7 linked regions of the Homo sapiens genome follow. The protein of the gene in region 2 purifies or fractionates together with the protein of the main gene of each other region. This does not show direct contact. Each region holds a gene or a part of one and is shown on either strand. Other genes may lie near its edges.

The links.
Region 1: the proteins of DNASE1L1 (region 2) and SIL1 purify together in Homo sapiens (co-immunoprecipitation; 2 studies listed by BioGRID and IntAct, with this or other methods). This does not show direct contact.
Region 3: the proteins of DNASE1L1 (region 2) and GPR107 purify together in Homo sapiens (affinity purification with mass spectrometry; one large-scale study listed by BioGRID and IntAct). This does not show direct contact.
Region 4: the proteins of DNASE1L1 (region 2) and SEMA3B purify together in Homo sapiens (affinity purification with mass spectrometry; one large-scale study listed by BioGRID and IntAct). This does not show direct contact.
Region 5: the proteins of DNASE1L1 (region 2) and CNTNAP3 purify together in Homo sapiens (affinity purification with mass spectrometry; one large-scale study listed by BioGRID and IntAct). This does not show direct contact.
Region 6: the proteins of DNASE1L1 (region 2) and RPS6KA3 purify together in Homo sapiens (affinity purification with mass spectrometry; one large-scale study listed by BioGRID and IntAct). This does not show direct contact.
Region 7: the proteins of DNASE1L1 (region 2) and MR1 purify together in Homo sapiens (affinity purification with mass spectrometry; one large-scale study listed by BioGRID and IntAct). This does not show direct contact.

Annotation. Positions count from the first base shown.
Region 1 is NC_000005.10:138,946,224-138,950,368, forward strand, and holds the end of SIL1 (nucleotide exchange factor SIL1 precursor), read right to left. Parts: intron 1,251-4,145; coding exon 894-1,250; 3' UTR 501-893; downstream 1-500.
Region 2 is NC_000023.11:154,403,496-154,406,254, reverse strand, and holds part of DNASE1L1 (deoxyribonuclease-1-like 1 precursor), read left to right. Parts: intron 1-599; 5' UTR 600-686; coding exon 687-821; intron 822-1,171; coding exon 1,172-1,260; intron 1,261-1,340; coding exon 1,341-1,427; intron 1,428-2,632; coding exon 2,633-2,733; intron 2,734-2,759.
Region 3 is NC_000009.12:130,060,406-130,063,905, forward strand, and holds part of GPR107 (protein GPR107 isoform 3 precursor), read left to right. Parts: intron 1-3,500. UniProt on the Homo sapiens protein: Has been proposed to act as a receptor for neuronostatin, a peptide derived from the somatostatin/SST precursor.
Region 4 is NC_000003.12:50,272,147-50,275,096, reverse strand, and holds part of SEMA3B (semaphorin-3B isoform 1 precursor), read right to left. Parts: intron 1,979-2,950; exon of another isoform or gene 1,800-1,978; coding exon 1,654-1,799; intron 1,563-1,653; coding exon 1,451-1,562; intron 1,354-1,450; coding exon of another isoform or gene 1,339-1,353; coding exon 1,269-1,338; intron 1,185-1,268; coding exon 1,040-1,184; intron 735-1,039; coding exon 515-734; intron 255-514; coding exon 163-254; intron 86-162; coding exon 44-85; intron 1-43. UniProt on the Homo sapiens protein: Inhibits axonal extension by providing local signals to specify territories inaccessible for growing axons.
Region 5 is NC_000009.12:39,064,210-39,068,167, reverse strand, and holds the end of CNTNAP3 (contactin-associated protein-like 3 isoform 1 precursor), read left to right. Parts: 3' UTR 1-3,458; downstream 3,459-3,958.
Region 6 is NC_000023.11:20,169,410-20,172,909, forward strand, and holds part of RPS6KA3 (ribosomal protein S6 kinase alpha-3), read right to left. Parts: intron 3,463-3,500; coding exon 3,337-3,462; intron 83-3,336; coding exon 1-82. UniProt on the Homo sapiens protein: Serine/threonine-protein kinase that acts downstream of ERK (MAPK1/ERK2 and MAPK3/ERK1) signaling and mediates mitogenic and stress-induced activation of the transcription factors CREB1, ETV1/ER81 and NR4A1/NUR77, regulates translation through RPS6 and EIF4B phosphorylation, and mediates cellular proliferation, survival, and differentiation by modulating mTOR signaling and repressing pro-apoptotic function of BAD and DAPK1.
Region 7 is NC_000001.11:181,057,983-181,060,210, reverse strand, and holds part of MR1 (major histocompatibility complex class I-related protein 1 isoform 1 precursor), read right to left. Parts: 3' UTR 1-2,228. UniProt on the Homo sapiens protein: Antigen-presenting molecule specialized in displaying microbial pyrimidine-based metabolites to alpha-beta T cell receptors (TCR) on innate-type mucosal-associated invariant T (MAIT) cells.

The sequences.
Region 1 (4,145 bases), on a different chromosome or scaffold from region 2:
CCCGGGTTGCCATGGCAACCTGCAGCCAGCTCCAGCCCGGGACTCCGCCAGCCTGGGTAGGGGCCGGGACTCGCCAGGCACGGCTGCTCCCAGCTCTGAGGCCTCCTCCTTGGGCTTGGCCCTGTTTCTGCTTGGACACAGAAGTGGTGCAAGGCCACAGAGAGGCACTTCTCCCCTGTCAGGTGGGCCAGGCAGGCCTGGGCTCCCCTGGGCTCCCACTGCCAGCTTTCTCCCAGAGTAAGGCCTGGCCCCTGGGCCTCCAGAGTCCAGCACCTCTCAGCACCCCACCCCGGCACCCATTGCTCCAGCACCCATCACTCCAGCAGCTGTCAAGCCCATCAGCTGCCTGGGTCACCACAGCACCAGTGTATGGACAGGCCTCAGGCGCCGGCCAGGTCAGCGGCCTTGAGGCTGTTATGTGGGCACCGATAGAGGGGCAGTGAGATGATTCCCTGCCTTACCTCACAGCTGGGGGGTGCCAGCACTAGTGTGAAGCTTTCTACGTGATTTTTCTCCTTTAATGGCACTCCTGACAGATGAGGAAACAAGCTCAGAGCAATTAAGCGACTTCCCAAGGTACAGAGCTGCTGCTTGGTAAGAAGCAGAGACTTGCAACTCCTGGGCCCAGGTTCCTGCCCTGGAGCCTGTTCCTGGATGCCCTGGGCTGAGCCCTGCACGTCAGCAGAGCCCATCACCCAACCACTCACCTGACCCCCCGGCCACAGGGCTGTGCCCAGTCTACACAGACACACAGCAGAAAGAGGATGGCCTTCAGGTTTCCATTTAATGGCCAAGCCAGCACTGCCAAGATGTCCTCCTGCCTGAGAAGCCCACCCACGCTGGCACCCCTCAGCCTCACTAGCGGCATCCCAGTCCAGTCCTGGTGTGGGGCCTCATCTCAGCTCCTTCAGCAAGCTGTTGACAGAGCCCAGCAGCTCCTGGAAGTAGCCCTCGTCCTCACCATCCTGCAGCTCCAGGCTGGCCAGCACCTGGTACTCAGCCTGCAGGCTGGCCAGTGTCCTGCCGAGCTGGGGGTCCTGACGGTAGCGGTCCCGGCAGGTGGTCAGGAGGACGCCCAGTGTCTGCAGCACCTTCTCACGGGCATCATGCTCGGGCAGCGCCAGGAGGTGGGCCGTGATCTCGCACCAGCCCTGTTCCCACAGGCCTGGCAGGAGGTGTACCTGGCGATACTGCTGCAGCTTCTCTGGGGACATCTCCTGGGTCAGCTCAGCCTCCTCCTCGGCGAACATCTGCCATCCGCCACAGCCGCAGGCCAGGTAGGGTGGGGGTGGGGAGAGAACACACAGGGAGCAGTTAGCTCACACCTGGCTAGCTCTGCCCTTCAGACAGGAAGGCACGAGGCTGACCCCTGAGGGCCCACCTCTTCCTCTATCCCCAAGTCTGTCTGTCTATTCATTCATTCATCCACCAACAGAAACACTTGTGTGGTGCCAGGTGCTGAAGAAACCACGATGGAGACATAGTCTTACCCTCAAGGAGCTTAAGGTCTAGCAGGAGAATAAAAATTAACTAATTCCCAAATAGCATAAATGTAATCTAACAGTGCAGCATGGAGGCAGACAGGCTGGCTTCAAATTCCTGCTCCACCACTGACTTGCTGAATGACCATGGCTGGCACTTAGCCTCCCTGAGACTCATCGTCATCACCTCCTAAGTGGAGAAACTCAGCCTGTCTGTAAAGCGCAGAAGCCCAGCTCTATCAGCAGAACATGGTGGGAGCCAATCCTGCCGGGCTACCAGCAGCGGGAAAGCCAACACCTGAACCATGACAAGCAGGCAGGTTACCTGAAGGTCAGAGGTAGAGGGTTGGGAGGGGGCAGAGATCTCCCGTGCAGCTGTAGGAAGTGTGCCTGTATGGAGAAAGAAGGAATGCCTGCCCTAACTCCAGGGGAGAATGAAGCACAGGGAAGATGCACAAGGCAAGAGGGAAGCCCAGGAGAAGAGGAGGCCACAGTGGACCACCTGTGCTTCCTGCGGCAGCAGGAAGTCGTGGGGCTGATTGGGGCTGGCAGAGGAAACTGAGGAGGGGTGCAATCCTGCATCCTGGGACAGGAGAGGCTGAGAGGTATCCCCTAGTCCTTTCCTACTTCACCCCTCAGTCCTGCCAGCTTCGCTTCCAAAACACACCCCAATTCTGTCAGCTCCACCTTTGTCCCTTGTGTCCTGCGATCCAGTGCCTCCTGCTCTCACCCTCTCCTCCAGCCCCCAAACCCTCACAGCCTGGCATTGCGGGTGATAAAGACAAAATCAATCCCTTCCCTGGGACTGCGAGGCTCTGCAGGCTCTGCCCCCACTGTGCGCGGCCTGGACCCACTCACACCCACTCCTGTCACTCTAACTCTCCCCTGGGGCCTCTGGAGGCGCAGCTCCGACTTCCAGGTGCACCCCCGCATTGGCCCCATTCACTCCACGGCTCCCTGCACACCTCACCGCCACTGACCGGCCTCCCCTGACTGGCCTTCTCTGCTTATATGCTGCTGTGGTTTGAGTGTGTTCCCTAAAAGTTCAAGTGTTGGAAGCTTAATTCCCAAGGCAGCAGTATTGAGAGGAGCTGCCTAGGTCAGGAGGGCAGCGGGTTCCTTACGGGAGAGCGGTTGTTATTCTAGAGAGCAAGCCCGGCCCAGCATGCTTTTTTCCGCAAGTGCTCTTGCCCTCTCACCTTCCACAATGTTGTCATGCAACACAAAGGCTCCCGCCAGATGCACCCACCCAATCGTGGATTTCCCAGCCTCCCGAATCATGAGCCAAAAACTGCCTTTTCTTTATATTATCCAGTCCCGGGTATTCTGTTAAAGCAGCAGCAGACAGACTACAACACAAGCTCAGGGGAATTCTCTGATAAACATCTGCCTGAAAGCTCAGGGACGACAGGGACTGCGGATTATTTTCCCAGCACCCGGCACAGCAGGCAGCACAGGCAGGCAGGGTCCCCCTGCGGCCCTTCAGCTCCTCAGATGCACCAGAGGCCATGGAATCCAAACCCCAGGCAGGCATCTCACCACTGCAGAAGCCCAGATGTCAGGGCATGGTCTCTCAGTAGAGGTCCTCTCACAGGCCAAGGTACATATGAGGACTGCCTGGGGCCTGGCAGACCCCAGCACCCTGATGGGGGTGTCACATTGCCCATGGGAATTCCACAGTCCTTGGCTGTCATGACAACATGCTGCAGTGATCCCCGAGCTGCATGGCACCCCTCCATCGTGGTGGACAGCTCATGTCCCTCCACCTTCAGGCAGCTCTGGACCCACCCCTAGCTTGGCTAGGTCTTCATTCTTAAGCGCTGCAAGAGGCTGGACTTAGTGACTCACGCCTATAATTCCAATACTTTGGGAAGCTGAGGCAGGACTGCTTGAGCCCAGGAGTTCAAGACCAGCCTGAGCAACATAGTGAGACCCTGTCTACAAAAAACGAACAAAATTAACCAGGCATGGTGGCATGGACCTGTAGTCCCAGCTACTCAGGGGGCTGAGGTGGGAGGATCACTTGAGTCTGGGAGGCAGAGTTTACAGTGAGCCAAGATCGTGCCACTGGGTGACAGAGAGAGACCCTGTCTCAAAAAAAAAAAAAAAAAAGAAAAAAGAAAAGAAAAGAAAAAAGAAAAAAGAAATCACAAGAACAGAGAAGCCCTGACTGCCTCAGCCCAAGTACAGTGTGTCCTAAATCTCTCTGGCTGAAATTTATCTGCTGTCCTCCCTGAAAGAAGAGGGCCATTTCTGTACTGTTTGTAGAGAGATGCCAGTCCTCCCCTCCCCAATCATGTCAGCACCCCAAAGCTTCCAGAGGCAGGCTCCCGGGGCCGGCAGCCTCGGGGCAGCCTTGGTGAGCCTGCCTGGTGGTAGTGTGCTAGCAATGTGTCAGTGCCATAGTGCCCAGGATGCCAGGGCTGGGGGCAGCAGGGACACACACCCAAGACACCAGAGAACAGAGCCCAGTTTCCCTGGGAAATGCCCAGCCAGCTGACATGTCCTTCTCCAGGCTCACTGGCCCAGTCCCAGAACCTGAACTGTGCCCAGGCCTTATCAATTGGATCTGAGCACCACATGGCTGCCTGCTGTTCTAAGAAACTGGATTTCTGCAGCTTTAACAAGAGAAGAGAGAGAAACAGGCAAAGACAGAGAGTTGGG
Region 2 (2,759 bases):
CTCACGCCTGTAATCCCAGCATTTTGGGAGGCCGAGGCGGGCAGATCACGAGGTCAGGAGATCAAGACCATTCTGGCTAACATGGTGAAACCCCATCTCTACTAAAAATACAAAAAATTAGCCGGGCGTGTGGCAGGCACCTGTAGTCCCAGCTACTCGGGAGGCTGAGGCAGGAGAATGGCGTGAACCCAGGAGGCGGAGCTTGCAGTGAGCCGCGTTTGCGCCACTGCACTCCAGCCTGGGCGACAGAGTGAGACTCCGTCTCAAAAAAAAAAAAAAAATTCTGACATATGCTCCAACATGAATGACCCTTGAGGACATTTTGCTCAGTGAAATGAGCCAGTCACAAAAAGACAAATACTGTAGGATTTCACTTTTTTTTGAGACGGAGTCTTATTGTCGCCCAGGCTGGAGTGCAGTGGTGCGATCTTGGCTTGATCTTCACAGAGCAAGACTCTGTCTCAAAAACAATTTTTTTTTTTGGAGACAGAGTCTCACTCTGTCACCCAGGCTGGAGTGCAGTGGTATGATCTCGGGAGGTCACTGGGAGGCTGGTGCTGGGCAGCAGCTAGTGCCACTTTCTCTGTTCCATATTTCAGCGCTTCCAGAGCCAGAACTGAGCCCAGTGAGAGCGCACCCTGGGGCAGCCTGGATTCCTGGGGTGTCCCCGGCAGCCACACACAGCCATGCACTACCCAACTGCACTCCTCTTCCTCATCCTGGCCAATGGGGCCCAGGCCTTTCGCATCTGCGCCTTCAATGCCCAGCGGCTGACACTGGCCAAGGTGGCCAGGGAGCAGGTGATGGACACCTTAGTTCGGGTAAGTTCATCACTTCAGGGAAGCCGTGCCCCTAACCACCATGAGCCAAAGCCCCCATCCCTGCCTGACCAGGGGTATGTTCTAGAGAAGAGGGGAGAAGAAGAGGTGTGGCACGGAGATGCAGCGCAGGCGCTTGCCTGCTGCTGGCCTCAGTCTCCTCCTCTGTGAAACAGGTGACATGTGGGTGGGATGAGTCTTTTCCTGGGGCATTTCCAGTCCCACTGCTTTCTGTGGGCTGCAGTCAGTGAGCCTTAACACTCTGGGCCACAACAGTGCCAGTCCCCTGGGCCCACTGCCTCCTCTCAGGGCAGTTGGCACTGAGTCAGGCTGGCCTTCCTGATGTCCCACAGATACTGGCTCGCTGTGACATCATGGTGCTGCAGGAGGTGGTGGACTCTTCCGGCAGCGCCATCCCGCTCCTGCTTCGAGAACTCAATCGGTGAGGAAGATTCTGTGGGTCTAATCAGGGGCACACCCAGAGGCTTGAGGCCCTGACCCCGCCTCCCCTTTTCTTGGCAGATTTGATGGCTCTGGGCCCTACAGCACCCTGAGCAGCCCCCAGCTGGGGCGCAGCACCTACATGGAGACGTATGTGTACTTCTATCGGTGAGCACGGAGCTGGCAGCGCAGCAGGGTGGGGGGCGGTCCTTGGCCCTAATGTGAGGTAGGCTCATTAGTCCCCGGGGCCACAGGCCCCCCATCCTGGGACAGCCTCACCTGCTTTGCATGCTTTCTCTTCTCAACACCTTTTATTCTGGGCTCTTCCCATCCTCGACCCCCGCCAGAGTGTCCATAGAGCAGGAGGCCTTCCTTCTATAAGCACAAATGTGGGGTCCCTCCTCCTCTCTCCTGTGGGAGCTGCTGGGGCTCAGGGTGTGGCTGGCCCCCTCTATGAAAGTGGCCAGCAAGGGCTGCAGCTCCTGGGAAGAGGCTCCGTGGGGACCACTTATGGGCCTTGGGTAGACCCGATCTTCTAAGTCCCTGGGAGGACAGGCTGGCAGGGAGCCCTTTGGAGTCAGGATCCAGAGGGCAAGGGAGGCTGCAGGGAAGGAGAACTGATTCTCTATATAAATAAAATGATATGACATCTGGTATGCGCTCCAAAATTACTGGGTAGGCAGGGTACAGTGGCTCATGCCTGTAATCCCAACGCTTTGGGAGGCTGAAGCAGCAGGATCACTTGAACCCAAGAGTTCAAGGCTGCAGTGAGCTATGATTGTGCCAGTGCACTGCAGCCTGAGCAACAGAGTGAGACCATGTCTCAAAAAAAAAAAAAAAAAAAAAAAGAATGACATCAAAGTGTCCAAATGTCAAAATGTACTATACCCAGTCCGTGGAATATTATTCAGCCAGAAAGAGGAATGAAGCACAGACGTGCCACAGCATATGGACGAACGCAGAAAACATTGATGAGCTGATTTCATTCATATGAAATATCCAGAATAGGCAAATGTACAAGATAGAGAACAGATTAATGGTTGCAGGGGCTGGGGGGAGGGGAGAATGGAGAGTAACTGGTAATGGATGTTATGTTTTTATTAGGAGTAATGGATACCAATGTTTTAAAATTGATTGTAGAAATAGTTGCACAGCCTTATGAATGTACAAAAGAACCGTGTTGTATACTTGAAGCAGGTGAATTTTATGGCATATGAATTATGCCTGATTTTTGAAAGTTCTAGAGACAGGTTGGGAGGGCTGTGCCCACATTGCCGCTGTTAGTGGAGGGCCCCTCCCTGAGCGCCGTTTGGCACTTGCAAGCCAAAATCAAAGACGTGGGGCCACTGCTGCCCATCCCTTTGTCCTCCCAGGTCACACAAAACACAGGTCCTGAGTTCCTACGTGTACAACGATGAGGATGACGTCTTTGCCCGGGAGCCATTTGTGGCCCAGTTCTCTTTGCCCAGCAATGGTAGGAAGGGAAGGGTGGGCTTGGTA
Region 3 (3,500 bases), on a different chromosome or scaffold from region 2:
TTTTTTTTTTTTTTTTTTTTTGAGATAAGGTCTCATTGTGTTGCCCTGGCTGGAGTACAGTGGCTATTCACCAGTGCAAACATAGTGCACGATAGCCTCCAACTCCTGGGCTCAAGCCATCTTCCCGTTTCAGCCTCCAAAGTAGCTAAGACTACAGATGCTTGCCACTGTGCTCGGCTAATCTGAGTTTTACATCAAAAATTGTCTAAATATGATTTTTATATTGTGTTAAAAACACAATATTTTGATGACTGATCATTCTGGCTTTCAAGTAGATGCTGCAAATGAGCAAGTGGACAGGAAGTGCTTTGCTAAAGCCTCAGAAATTTGGGCATTTCTTGGGTTTGATACTTCTATGATAATTATCCACAAATTATAACTCAAATACTCTAGACTTTGTGTCAGCAGCTTAGCAAGGCATGTAGTTTAGAGCAGAACTTGGGAATAGCCAGTCCTCACTGCTGTCGAGTGCAGTGTAACTTCTGGGCTAGTCATATTAGAAGCCTTCCTCGCTGATGGGATCTAGACTAGAAGATGTTGGATGAAAAGATAAGTTAAAGCAGAACATCACACAAAAGGAGTATGCACCTGAAACTTTATTTTGACTTAAAATCTGCCAATATACATTCATTGACTTAAATGAGTGACATTAAGCTTACTGGATGACTTCGCAACACATGCCTTCTGTCTCTTACTCATTCAACAAATACTCTTCAGGTGTCTTTTATATACCGGGTGGGCACTTCTAGACACAGGCTGAGGCAGTGAGCGGGACTAAGCCCCGACCTTTGTGGAGTATTCATTCTAGTGGTAATGGACAGCTAGCTTCTAAACACCTGAATGCACAAGTAATTTAAAAATGGGATAAATTGATGAGAAAATAAAACAGTATTGGAACCAAGAGTAATGGAATTGGAAATTACTGTGGAGAGAGACTCTGAAGAGTTAATATGTGAGTGGACTTAATGAATGAGCCAGGCATTTGAGGGTCTAGGGAAGAATATCACAGGCAGAGGAACAGGAAGTGCAAAGTCCCTGAGTGGGAGCATCTTCATGTTCCCATGTCTATGGAGGCCCCTATGGCTGGAGCAGAGTGATCTAGGGGAGAGGTACACATGAGCCTGGAGGCCATGGTAGGATGTGTGGATTTTATTCTGCGTGATGAGGAACCTGCCCTGGTTTTTGGCATAGGGAAGTAGTTTCCTGAAGAAGTGACATTAAAGCTGAGACTGGAAGAGTAAGAATTAGCCAGGGCAGGCCGGGCGTGGTGGCTCACGCCTGTAATCCCAGCACTTTGAGAGGCCAAAGTGGGCAGATCCCCTGAGGTCAGGAGTTCAAAACCTGCTTGGCCAACATGGTGAAATACTTTCTCTGTTAAAAATACAAAAATTAGCCGGGCATGGTGATGGGCACCTGTAATCCCAGCTACTCGGGAGGCTGAGGCAGGAGAACCACTTGAACCTGGTAGGCCAGTGAGGCCAGTGAGCCGAGATTGCACCACTGCACTCCAGCCTGGGTGACAGGGTGAGACTCTGTCTCAAAAAAAAAAGCATTAGCCAAGGCAAAATGAGGTTAGAGCTTATGTCTGGAAGAGGAAGTGAAAGAGATTGATTGTTCGTGTGCCACTCGGATTCTTAGTTTCCTACTTTGTAAAATAAGGATAATGGTAGCTTTCCCACAGGGTAGTTATGAGGATTAGATAAAATTATGTAAAATAATAGCACTGAGGCTGGGTACGGTGGCTCACACCTGTAATCCCAGCACTTTAGGAGGCCAAGGCGGGTAGATCACCTGAGGTCGGGTTTGAGACCAGCCTGGCCAACATGGTAAAACCCCATCTCTACTAAAAATACAAAAAATTAGCCGGCGTGGTGGCGCATGCCTGTAATCCCAGCTACTCGGGAGGCTGCGGCAAGAGAATTGCTTGAACCTGGGAGGCGGAGGTTGCAGTGAGCTGAGATTGCGCTATTGCACTCCAGCCTGGGTGACAAGAGCAAGACCCTGTCTCGAAAATGATAATAATAATAATAATAATAATAATAATAATAATAATAGCACTGAGTAGTAGACTGATCTAAGTAGTAGTTCATTCATTCAACGTTTATTAAATACCTACTATGTGCTAGGCACTAGAGATATACAAATGAGACAGGCCCATAGACAGGTAGTTATGATATAGCATGGTGGCTCTTTCGCCTGCCTGCCTGCCTGCCTGCCTTCCTGCCTTCCTGCCTGCCTGCCTGCCTGCCTGCCTGCCTTCCTTCCTTCCTTCCTTCCTTCCTTCCTTCCTTCCTTCCGTTTGTCTGTCCATCCGTCTTTTATTTTTTTTTAAATAAGAGTGTCTCACTCTGTCACCCAGCCTAGAACTCAGTGGTGCAATCATAGCTCACTGCAGCCTCAAACGTTTGGGCTCAAGGGATCCTCCTGCCTCAGCCTGCCTGCCTAGTAGCTAGTACTACAGGTGCACACCACCACATCTGACTAATTTTTTTATGTGGATATTTTGTAGAGATGGGGTCTTGCTACTTTGTCCAGGCTGGTCTTGAACTCCTGGTCTCAAGCACTCCTACCACCTTGGTCCTGAACTCTTTATGAGAGGATAAGACAGGGAAGATTTGGTTATTTTAATACCAATGTCTGGCGTATTTGAACTAGAATGACTCCTAACCTCAGTGTACACTGTAAATGATCTTTTTTAAACAGACATTTCAGGGTTTCATCTCTTTTAAGTGTGAATATCTATTAAGCAGCTGCTCTTTAGCATGTGTGTATACATAAAAATATAACATGCTTTTTTTTTTTTGAGACGGAGTCTCGCTCTGTCGCCCAGGCTGGAGTGCAATGGCATGATCTCAGCTCACTGCAAGCTCCACTTCCCGGGTTCATGCCATTCCCCTGCCTCAGCCTCCCGAGTAGCTGGGACTACAGGCGTTTGCCACCACATCCGGCAAATTTTTTGTATTTTTAGTAGAGACAGGGTTTCACCGTGTTAGCCAGGATGGTCTCAATCTCCTGACCTCATGATCTGCCCGCCTTGGCCTCCCAAAGTGCTGGGATTACAGGCATGAGCCACCGTACCCGGCTATAACATGCTTTTTAAATTATTTAAAATTTTTTTCAGTTTTTAATTATTTTTTCCTATTATTTGTTTTTCTTCTTTATTCAAGTTTCCACACTCCACATCAAACATGCCTTTTTTAGTGACTGCTGTTTGGTGGCATGTATGCCAGTGTGCTTCCTTCTGAAAATACCAGTGTAGTATAATAAAATATTTGATTGCTGGGGTTTCTTAATAAAACAGCCCTGGGAAATTCCAGTGATTGCTTTGTCTTTTTTTTTCTTTTTCCTTTGTATTGCTTCCCTTTACTACTACTGTATAGATTTTTTTCTTCATGGAGTTTATTCTTTTTTTTTTTTTTTTGAGGGTCATACTCTGTCACCCAGGCTGGAATGCAGTGGCACGATCTCGGCTCACTGCAGCCTCTATCTCCCAGATTCAA
Region 4 (2,950 bases), on a different chromosome or scaffold from region 2:
AAGCTCAGTCCATCCCACCCCGACCCCCATCCTGGTCACTCACCCTCTTGGAAGAAATTTGCATGCTGGTGACAGCGGCCGAGTCCTGAGAGGGAGGAGGGGCGACGGGGTCAGGGCTTAGTGGGGTGGGGGGGTCCCGGGCGACTGGGGGTGAGGCCTCACCTCAAACACGTGCAGCTCCTCCAGGAGCAGCCCCTCTGCGCTGGGCCTACTGCCCTTGGGGACCGAGATCACCTTCAGCACCGTGCCAACGTCTGCAGGGATGAGAAGGGGTAATGACCATTGGTGCTCCCGGACAGCTGGGGCTAGTGTCTCCTCGCCTTTGAGGCGTCTACCCTCAGCATGTTTGGGTTGTGAAGAGTGTGGACTGGAAGAGTGTGGGTTGGGCAGCATCCACAGGGTGGAGACACAGCCCAGGAAAGGATGTGGAGATGGGACTGAACAGGGAGAGCTTCCATCAGCAGCCCACAGGGCCTGGCTGGGAGCCTGGGGGTCGCTGTGGAGGGACCCTGACCTGTGCCAATGAAGAGGACGTCATAGTGTCCGTCAGCGGCTGCAACCCGGTCCGCGGCAATTTGAGTGAAGGTGTAATTGGCTCCAACTTGTAGGAAAAGAGGGCGCCCCCCAGTGGGCAGGACAGAGTTGTACATGAGGGGGTGGTTCCGCGCAAACTGGATGACATCGTCTGGGAAGTCCTTGGTGGAACTGAAGGTGCCAAAGGTCTTGCTGGGGCACTGGGGGTGGGGGAAAGGGAGGCACAGCAGGGATATAGATATGGGGGCTTGATAGGCAGCCCTCCATGCCCAGCCTCTGGGAACATGGAGGGGGATGGGGACAGAACCCTGCCCTGAGAATTAGAGAGGAGATCAGCCTTGCCCTAGGAAGTCAGAGGCGGGAAACAAGCCTTGTCTTATGATGGAAACGTTTTCCCACCCATAACTAAAGGAAGAAACCACATTCACCAAGAAGACCCCAGGCCAAGTTCTCAAACCCTTGAGGCTTTGAAGTGGGTTGTAGCAGAAGTCCCTGGGCTACGAACCATGCCTGGCCGCGGGTAGGGGACGCGACCCTGGTATGACACCCACTGGTGCATGGGCCCCTCCTTGTGTGCAAAGGGTCCCAAGAAGGCCCGGCGCACGTCGTTCATGCTGTACACGCACACCGCAGAGCCCTGGAAGATGCTGCTGGAGGCGAAGACCAGGGCGAGGTGAGGGGCCGGGTGGAGCCCAGCGGCCCGCCCCGGGCGCTCCCTACCTCCTGCCCCTCACCTGGACGTGGAGAAGACGGCATAGAGCAGCGGGGTCCGGTGGTCCCGCGAGGACAACAGAAACACATCCTCTGCGGGGAAGGGGCCTAGCTGGGGTAGGGCGCACAGCCCCGCTGCGGCGGGGGCTCCCGGAGTCTGCGCCGCTGCCCCCCTCCCCAACCCCATACCCACTCCCGCACTCACGGAGCTGATCGAAGTGGGTGTCGCCCTCGACGCCGGGCACCGAGCACACCAGCCGCGCCTTCAGGAACGTCGTCCACTTGTTGACCAGGCTGCGCTGGCCGCCCACGTCGTTCTGCCGGGACGATCAAAGGGGATGAGGGCGAGACCAGGGCAGGCAAAGGGGTAGGGGCAGGGTCGCCGGGTGTGGCCCAGGGACTCCTCACCCGGCAGATCTGGCCAACGCGGGACACGGACAGGCGTCCCAGTGCCGGCGCCGCCTCTACCGCCGTCTCACGAAAGAAGAAGTAGATTTTGTCGTCGTCTGGGTTCTCGCTCTCCGGGATCCAAAATACCTTGACAAACTTGGGCTCTGACCGCGGCAGGAGGCATGGGTCAGCGGGTCCTGGCCTTGCCTCCTGATGCGAGACCCACGCGCTGCTTCCCCTTCCCGTAGTGCGGGCACAGCACCCGGGATCACAGTGTCTGACCACCCAACCTCTAGCACCATGTCCAGTTGGCGCTCTGCGCGGACCGAATCCAAAGGATCAGGGCCTGCGAGGCAAGAAGCAGCCGCGAGGGGGCAGCAGAGACCGTGGCTACCTGGGGGCGCAGGCGTGAAGCCCGGCTAGCCTCCGATCTCGCCCCACACGTCGCCCAGCACCTTAGGCTGGGGTAGGAGGGAGATGAGGTAATCTGGTTTCACCTTCACTCATGAATCTTCCTCTCTAGCATAACCAGATGCTCCCCACTCCTGCTTCAAATCCTTCTGCTGGGTCCCATTGCTCTTTATTATTATTATTATTATTATTATTTGTTTATTTATTTATTTTTTGAGACAGTCTCGCTCTGTCGCCCAGGCTGGAGTGCTCGATCTCGGCTCACTGCAACCTCAGCCTCCCAAGTAGCTGAGATTACAGTCAGAGCCTACCACCACACCTGGCTTTTTTTTTTTTTTTTGAGACGAAGTCTCGCTCTATTGCCCAGGCTGGAATGCAGTGGCACAGTCTCCATTCACTGCAACCTCCGCCTCCTAGGTTCAAGCGATTCTCCTGCCTCAGCCTCCTGAGTAGCTGGGATTACAGATGCACACCATCATGCCGGACTAATTTTTGTATATTTAGTAGAGACGGGGTTACACCATGTTGGCCAGGCTGGTCTCAAATGCCTGAACTCAGGTGATCCGCCCGCCTCAGCCTCCCAAAGTGCTGGGATTACAGGTGCACACCACTGCACCCGGCCAATTTTTGTATTTTTTAGTAGAGACAGGGTTTCACCATGTTGGCCAGGCTAGTCTCAAACTCCTGGCCTCAAGCGATTTGCCTGCCTCCGCCTCCCAAAGTGCTGAGATTACAGGTGTGAGCCACTGTGCCCACCAGCCCATAGCCCTTATTTAATTTTTATTTGATTTAGAGACAGGGTCTGCTCTGTCCTGCAGTGGCAGCATCATGGCTCACTGCAGCCTCCAACTCCTGGGCTCAAGTGATCCTTCCATCTCAGCCTCCTGACTAGCCAGGACTACAG
Region 5 (3,958 bases), on a different chromosome or scaffold from region 2:
TCAGCCTCCTAAAGCGCTGGTATCACAGGCGTAAGCCACTGCGCCCGCCCTGAAATTTTAATATCGCACATGCACTGCATATCTCTTTAGTACTATACGTATATCTGGGCTTTACACAAAAAGAATATTTTTCTTCTCTTCACTTCTCCCATCCCCCCCAAAAAAACTAATTTCTGTCGTTTTGGGGACAATATTACTCTCACTGAGAGTGCATGTTCACATACAACCATGAATAGAGGTGGTTGCCATGGGCTATACCAGAAATCCCCATAATTAATAGGGCATTAGGTAGAATATTCATAGGGGTCTTGCCTCAGTCCTGGCAAGTCCTAGACCATGTATTACTATGGCGGCCCCACTGAACAAATCTTCAAAGATTTGGAAAAAAAGATCAAACCGTTTCCAATAACTAATTGGCATCTCTGAGCAAAGTTCACATGTATTTCCAGTAACATAAAACTATCCAACACCAGGCCGGGCACAGTGGCTCATGCCTGTAATCCCAGCACTTTGGGAGGTCGAGGCAGGCAGATCACGAGGTCGGGAGATGGAGACCATCCTGCTAACAAGGTGGAAACCCCGTCTCTACTAAACATACAAAAATTAGCCGGGCGTGGTGTTGGGCGCCTGAAGTCCCAGCTACTCGGGAGGCTGGGGCAGGAGAATGGCATGAACCCGGGAGGCAGAGTTTGCAGTGGGCCGAGATTGCGCCATTGCACTCCAGCCTGGGCAACAGAGCCAGACTCCATCAAAAAAAAATCCAACACCCAACGAGGTAAAATCACAATGTCTGGTATACAATAAAAAATTACCAAGTGTGTGAAGAGGCAGAAAAATAGGACCTATAATGAGGATAAAAATCAATCTAAAATGACCCAGCACATACCCAGATGTTAGAATTACTAATGAAAAATATTATGACTATATTCCGTATTTTCAAAGATTAGGATGTGACAAGAAAAGGCTTTAATTAAACTTCGAGAGATGACAATGTTAATGTATAAGATTAAAAAATACAATGGATGTAATTAATGGCAGATGAGAGTTTTCAGAAGAAAATATTAATAAACTTGAATATATATAGCAGTAGAAAGCATCCAAAATGAAACAGAGACAGAAAAAAAACAAAGAATAATCAGAGTATCGGTGATCTGTGGGACAACTTCAGTTGCCTAATCTGTGTGTATTTGGAGTTCTCAAAGGAGAAAAGAGAGTGGATGGATAGAAAAAAATATTTTTAAAAATTAATACATAAGCATTTTCCACATTTGATGCAAACTATAAACCCACAGACCCAGCTCAACATCCCCAAGTAGGGGTGCTATTAAGAAAACCACATCACAACACATCATAAGCAAATGGATCAAAACTCAGTGTGGTAAAGAGAAAAAGACAAGTCTTACACAGAGAAGAAAAACAAGGATGATACCAGACTTCTTTTTGGAAGCAATGCAAGGGGAAGGGCAGTGGAGCAACATCTTTCATGCTTCCAGTGAAACATCTTCCAACCAAAAGCAGAAAACTCTCTCTCCTAGGTTTCTATACCCAGCAAAACCGTCTTTCAAGAAAGGATGAAACAAAGATATTTTTCAGACATAGAAAAGTTAAAAGTAATATATTATCAGCAAACCTGGACTATGAGAACAGTGTAAAAGCCTTTCAGGAAGAAGGAAAATAAAGAATAATATCTTTGTGCAGATAGAAACATGGATCCACACAAAGAAATGAAGAGCACTGGCAATAGTAACACCATAAGTAAATATACAATACCTGCCCTTATTACTTAAATATCTTTTAAAGATAATTGGCTGTTTAGAAATAATAGCAGTGTCATGTGAGTTCTGCAGCATGAGTAAAAGTAAAATATATGACAACAATAACCTAGAGTAAATGGAAATATAGTTTAGTTTGTAAGGTTCTTAGACTGTGTGTAAAGTCGTATAATGCCTATTAAAAGTTGGCTATTACAAGTTATCTTTAAGTTAAAACATCTGTATGGTGTAATCCCTAAAGCAAATGCTAGAGTAACAAAAACAGTGATAATATTACAATATTACACAATAATATTACAATGCAGCGATGAAATAGAATAAATTTTTAAATGCTTGAAAGTAGACAAAAAAGATGAGAAAGAGGACAAAGAACAAATGGGACAAATAGAAAGCAAATAGCAAGATATAAAATAAAAATCTGATAAATTTGACCTTAAGATTAACAACTCTCCTTTTAAAATACATTGTTAAGAGAATAAGAGTCAAGCTACAGACTGGGAGAAAATATTTGCAACACTTTATTTGAATGCTGTAAATTTTTTTCAGAATATAGTTCATAAAGAACTCTTAACAACTCAATAATTAGCAAAAATAAAATGAAAATAATGAATATAAGAAAAAATGACGAAAAGTGCTAGGCCAGTGGACAAAAAGCACACAAAAATGTTCAATATCGTTTTGTCATTAAGGAAATGCAAATTAAAACCACAGTGAGTTATTCTTCCCACTAAAATGGTTATGATTAAAAATATTGTCAGTACCACGTGTTGTTGAGAATATGGAGCAATTATAATTCTCATACATTATTGTTGGAATGTAAAATGCTACAACCACTTAGGAAAAATTGTTTAACATTGTTTTATATAATTAAGCATACATGAAACCTATGACCCAACAATTCCAATCCTAGATTGAAAAGAAATGAAAACTTATGCCCATTATAAGACTTACACAAGAACGTTTATAGCATCTTTACTTATAATATCCCCAAACTGTAAACTGCCTAAAAGACCTTCAACAAGAAAATGGACAAACAATTTGTGTTGTATTAATAATGAAATACTCTTCAGCTATAAAATGGACAAAACTACTGGTAACTGCAACAAACATGGCTGAATCTAAAAAACCTTGTGTTGAATGAATAAATCTAGACACTATAGGGTACATTCTGAAGTCCTAGAACAAGCGAAACTAAGATATAGCAGTAGAAATTGTATCAGTAGTTACCTGGGTTGAGGTGGGATGGGAGTTGACTGCAGAGAAACACAAGGGAAGTTTCTGGAGTGATGGAAATGTTCTATGTCTTGATTGACTATGGTTACATTGGTGTGGACATTTGTCAAAACTCTGAATTTCATATTTGGAATTTGTATATTTTGTATATAAATTATACTTCAATAAATATGTACATGTATATATATGTGTATATATAATACATTTTGATATGTCATGATGTCTATCACTTCACAGCATATTATATTTCTATCATACCATATTTACATAATGGAAAAAGATGAAAAGGATGCTGTATTTTGGGGAAATCACAAGAGATTATCACCTTTATTTATTTTTTATACAAATACATATAAATCTTTCACAGTACAATACAAATGTCAAAATGTGGTATTTTCATTGCTCTATAAATTCTTATATGTTCTATGTATGTAATAAATGTTAAAAACAGTGTTTATATGTTGTATATGTTTATTTGTTCTATGTGTTTACATGTTCACTGTTCTATAAATTCTCATATATTGTATACTATACAATCAGGTGATGAGCTGCTCAGTAAATAAGTGCTGAACACTCTGCATCCCTCATCACGTCAAGCATTTCACATCCCTTTTCCTGTAGGCTTCCACAGTAGACATTTGACTTGCCAATTACATTTTCATCCATCATTCTGGAGAAGCCTGGAGAAACAGCTAGACACAGGGGACATACTCCTATACCTTGCTCATTGTGCCTTGGAATTATACATATTGAAATATTGTAAAGATTTGCTTCATTTGTATCAACATGGCTGTGAAATTAGATGTCAACTCTACCTCAGTTCCAACTTTTAGGAGGAATCCAGATAGTTTATTAGAAAATAGAAGTGCAAAAATGTTTGCTGTTTGATTCTCAGACCATAGCCTGAGATTAGCAATATTAAAAAAAAAAATAGCAGACAGAAGAGGCCCAAG
Region 6 (3,500 bases), about 130 Mb from region 2:
GAGTGATAATGTTTGGATGCTGTCCATAACGAAGAAGAATTTCAATTTCTTCTGTTGGGTCTCTCTTGCTTTTATCAATAATCTAAAAGGCAAATGTTTATCACAAAACCTCATCAACTATACAGTTATAAACATTAATTGTTTATAGCTACAGACCTTGGGTATTACCTCATGTAAATAGTGTATAAATAAGCCATTTATCAGTCAGTTTTATTCAACTACCTGGCCAGATTGTTTAATCAGAAAGCCAGTCTTGATATAGATGGCAAGGCTGTAAATTCTAACTCATGAGTCGCATTCCCACCATGCCTCTCCAATCTAAGTTTGTAAGTTTGTAGTAAGTTTAGGACTTAACCAAAAACTCAAAAAGCCTCGAGAAAAGGTACCAAGAACACAGTTAACATATCTTTTCTTCTATCCTTGAGGCCTTAAACATTTGGGAACTCAGTCAACTTCTAACCCCCCATCAATACAGATAATTAAGAGCTAGATATAACACCACCACTAGCATCTGCTTATTGAATTAAGTTTACTTCCTTTAATAAAATGCTTCAATTGAATATCCTGTTAGCTGTAAGCTACTTATAAAAGCTAATTATCTGCTAAGTAGAACAATCTTGTTTTTGAAGTTAGGCAGAAAGCTACATAGAAAATCATACCTAGCATTTTATTTGGTTAGAATTTGGTTTAATTATTATAATAAAGCCCTTTAAAATAGTAATGTAGCTTTCTAACCCTTTTATATTGGCTGCTCCTTAAAAATATTTTTCTTAATGTTTTAATCTGCTCAACTAATATTATATAAAAAAGACAAATTTTGCTTTCTATTCATTCAAAGGGTAGTCTGAAACAAATTAGGTGGCCTTTGTATGTTCAATTTTAAACAGCTTAGTAATTAAGTATGCACTAAATACCCAGACACTCCAGCAACCTAGGAAAGAGGTTACAACTCTCAAGCATGGGTCCAGTCTTCTATCTGAAATGGATTTATAGTTGACCCTTGAACAACACAGGTTTGAACTATGAGGGACCAATTACACGTGGATTTTCTTCTGCTTCTGCCACCCCTGAGACACCAAGACCAACTCCTTCTCTTCTTCCTCCCTCCTCAGCCTACTTAAGGTGAAAATGATGAGGAAAAAGACCTTTATTATGATCCACTTCCATTTAATGAACAGTAAATGTATTTTCTCTTCCTTATATATATTTTTTCTTTTTTTGAGACAGGGTCTTGCTCTGTTGCCCAGGGTGGAGTGTAGTGGCGCAATCACGGCTCACTGCAACCTCAAACCCCTGGGCCCAAGTGATCCTCCCACCTCTACCTCCTGAGTAGCTGGGACCACAGGCACATACCACTACACTCAGAAAATTTTAAAAATTATTTGTAGAGATGAGGTCTGGCTATGTTGCCAAGGCTAGAGTACAGTGGCACATAGCTCACTGCAGCCTGAACCTCCTGAGCTCAAGCAATCCTTCCGTCTCAGCCTCCTGAGTAGCTGGGACTACAGGCACATGTAGCCACGCCTGGCTAATTTTTAAACAATTTTTCTGTAGAGATAGGGTCTTGCTCTGTTGCCCAGGCTTGTCTCAAACTCCTGGCCTCAAGCAATCCTCCCACCTCGGCCTCCCAAAGTGCTAGGATTACAAACGTGAGACACTATGTCTGGCATGATTTTCTTAATAACACTTTCTTTTCTCTAGCTTACTTTATTGTAAGAATACAGTATATAATACATATAACATACAAAATAATCGACTATATATGCTATCAGTGAGGCTTCTGGTCAACAGTAGGCTATGAGCAGTTAAGTTTTGGAGAGTCAAGTTATACGTGGATTTTCAACTGCTTGGGGATCAGCACTCCCAAGTCCTGTGTTATTCAAGGGTAGACTGTACTTGTATAACAGTTCTGTATTTGGAGAACAGGGAAGGTAAACATACAGGTGCCCACTGTAATCAACTGCAAATGATAGTGTGGAATTAGGCAAATGGGTGATTAAGAGGAGAGGTATATGGAATAGACATGCTAATTTAAGAGATGACCTGGGACTAGTCTTTTGAAAACCAGAACACACTGGGAGGGGTCGTTTTTGGCATGGATCTGCTAATCTGAGCCCAGTTTGCATTAGATCTATACTTGTGCTTGTGGACCTCAAATATGTGGTAATTTCAGTAGAATCCAGTTGTGTTGGGATTGGTTTTATGAATCATTTAAGTTACAAAAATCCACAAATAGCTTGGAGATATTTTTGAGGTTTTAGGCATAGTCCTCAAGGTTTCTGTAATTCAAAGGGGCCTCAGGACATTTCTGCTTTTTATGATGTATTTATGGAGGCAAGACACATCCTTAAACTGCCTACCAAATACATTATTAGTCTTTTCTCCTTTCATGTAAGCAATTTGAAAACTTCTATGTATCTTAGATTTCAGTAAGAGCAATGAATAGGAAAATAGAAAATTAAATGTATTTCTTTTAAGAATTTCCTTCTTTAAAATTAGCTTTATTGTCCTTCCAATGAAGCAAATTAAATGTATTTTTATGGTTCATCCTTCTATCTGACAGAAAGCCCTATAGACACTGACGACTTTAAAGCAGTTACATCTAAGTTTAGAAGAGTGATAACAACTAATGTCACTATCTCTCTAAACATGAGCTATGTATATTTATAAACCAGTCCTAAGGTTCAAACAAGTTGAAAGCTTTAGACATTGTTTGAATTGCTTGAGATTGGAGAGCAGAGGTTACTATTCCAAGAAGTGAAAAGAGACTTGAACATAGTGCTTGTTCACTTACGACTAAAGGTTTGAAATTCAAACTTTATCGTAGAGCTAGGTTCCTTGGTTTTTGGCTTAGAAAATTCTGTCTTAGGATACTTGATGAAATTAAAACAGCCAATGATAACGAATTTTATGATAGTGGTTTTTATTCATTAGTTCCCAGATCCTTTTAGATGCAAAGAAAGGTATGAACTTTTTGCCAGAGAAGATGTAAACATACAAAATTTTGCACACAATTTTGAGGAATTTGCTGACACCCTGAGCATAAAATGGGGACTTCTCAGAGTAAAAAGATACTTTAAAAATCACTTGAGGTAAAAAAAGAAAAAAAATCACTTGAGGTGTAAACTGCTACTGCTCTGGGAAAACTAGATATATAACCACCTTACCTTTAGCTCACAGGGTTCTAGATTAAGATCTCTGAAGATCACTAGCCAGATATTTAACTTTTTTATAACAAAAGGCACTTTTAACAACAAGGGGAGTGTAATTTTTAACTGGTACTGACATGCATGAACAAGAACTGTATGAATTGCATTTTAAATAAAAAAAATTTACCTTCACTGCAAACTCCATGTTTGTAGCTTTATGTATACATCTCTTGCAAACAGAGTAGGAGCCAACTCCAATATCTTCTTTTACTTCATATCCATCAGTAAACTGAATACTGTTCCTGTGTAACTGCTACAAAAAATTATAAATTGGTGAAGAGTCCCATAATG
Region 7 (2,228 bases), on a different chromosome or scaffold from region 2:
AAGCCATGCATGCAGGGAGAACACCAAATGAAGACTAGAGTTACGCAGCCAGAAGGCAAGGAACAACCAGAAGATAGGAGGGAAGCCTGGAACAGATCCTTTCCCAGTCCCTTTAGAGGCAGCATGTTTCTGCCAACACTTCATTTTGAACTTCTGGCCTCCAGAACTGTGAAACAATAAATTTCTGTTGTTCCAAGCCACCCAGTTTTTGTGGTACTTTTAAACGACTACCCTTGGAAACCAGTACAAGGTGGAACGGGGAGACGATGGAGAACATGACATTGTGACATGTTGCATCTTTCCCAAAATGGCCACAATGATATCTCCCAACTACATGCTCTTCTTACAATGTAACTCTGACAATCTTCCTATTGAGTGTTGGGTTCTATACACCCTCTTTTTGAACCTGAGCAGGATTTTATGACTTCTTCACCAATGAGAGTATCACAAGAATGACATTTTGTGACTTCCAAGATTAGATTATATAAATGCTATGCACTTTGACTGTGATCTCTTGGGATACTCACTCTGAGGGAAGCTAGCTGCCATGTAAGCAGTGACTGCCCTGAGGCCACCATGTTGTGAGGAAGCCCAACCCACACAGAGAGATTACATGGAGAGTTCCTGAGACTACATGGAGGAGATGTAGCTGATGCCTGGCCACCACCCCTGGCTGCCCCATTTCTGTTCCAGCCACCACTTGCCTCCAACTCCATGAGAAGCCAGAACTGCTTACCCAAGCCATATCCAAATTCCTGACCCATAGAAACTATGAAAGAAAATAAAATGGGTATTGTTTTAAACCAATAGGTTTTGGGTTTTGTTACACAGTCTGTGGGGTTTGGGGCAACCAGAAGCTAGAAGGACAATGGAGAAAGGGAGGCCAGAGTGAAAAGGAGATGCAGAGATGTTACAGAGACATACAATGCTCAAAGATGGCAATTTCCAAAGAAAGAGAGGTGAAGGCAGCTCAGGCAGTGGAATCATCAACCTCTAAAAAGCACAATGTACTGAATGTCCTGAAGCTATTGGGGAAAAAAAAAAGATGAAAAGGGCAATGCAGTTAAGTGGGAAACACCTGGGCTGGGAGATGCCTGTGCTTCTTCCTAGCTCTGCTGCCCACAGCACATGGCTATGGGCAAAGCCCCCTGTCCTCCTTGGAGAACATTCTGTGAACTAATACACTGTGTGTGAGAAAATAGCAAACTCCAGAGAGCAGGTGCTAACAAGCAAGAATGTGTCCCCTTGCACCAATTCTGGGGTCATCAAGCACTCTACAGATTGTGATTTAGTTGTTCTTATGTAGATTTTCCTGCTGGAAGGTGTACTGACCAGCTGAGACAGATATCTGACCCACTTAGCAATTGTGTTTCTCACAGTAAATTAATACATTGGCACTCCACTTTATATATCCATCTGATCACTTTGTGGGGACACTAGACCTGCATATGTGAGGACAAAGACCCCAGACAGTGGTTTTCAAAATAAGGTGTGACTGCTCTGTGTGACTCTGGCAGAAAATGATCAGCTGGCCTCCCTAGTGGACAATCTGTTCCTCATAGCTACAAGTGCAAAAACATCTTCTCTCAGGCCAAAAAAAGAAGAGGAGAAACCAAGTCATTCCTCAGAAATAAGGAAAGGATCACAACTTGGAAATCATGGGAGTAAGAGGAGAGAGGAAAGGAGGACTGGCCCCTGATGGGAGAGCTCAGAAACTCTCGATGGAGTCTTGTTGGATTTTTCACCCTGCTCTTTAAACTGCTTTCTCTCCCTTAAATGTACCACATCAAAAACATCTGCCATTTAAATTTACCACATCTTGGTCTATATGCACATCAAAAACAAACAAACAAAAAAAACAAAAACAGGTAATAAATACAGTGGAGTTAAAAAAAAAAAAAAGAACAGAGTTGAACAGGTTTCTCATCTAGTGTTCTTGATCCAAAATATTCAGTAAAGAAAATTCAAAGCCAAAACATAGCTGTGGCAATAGCACAGTTATTTGTTTTTAATGTTTAGATCATGGTGTCAAATATTTCATAGGTTATGATTACTGAGCATCTGTACTCAACAACCATGAAGTAATGAAGCAATAACAAGGCTAAAACAATTAAGAAGTAATATAATCTTCAACCATCTATAGTAAAATGAAGGTTGCAGAATTTTAGGTATTACTTACTTATTTTATTTTTATTTTTTTGAGATGGAGTTTCACTCTTGTTGCCCAG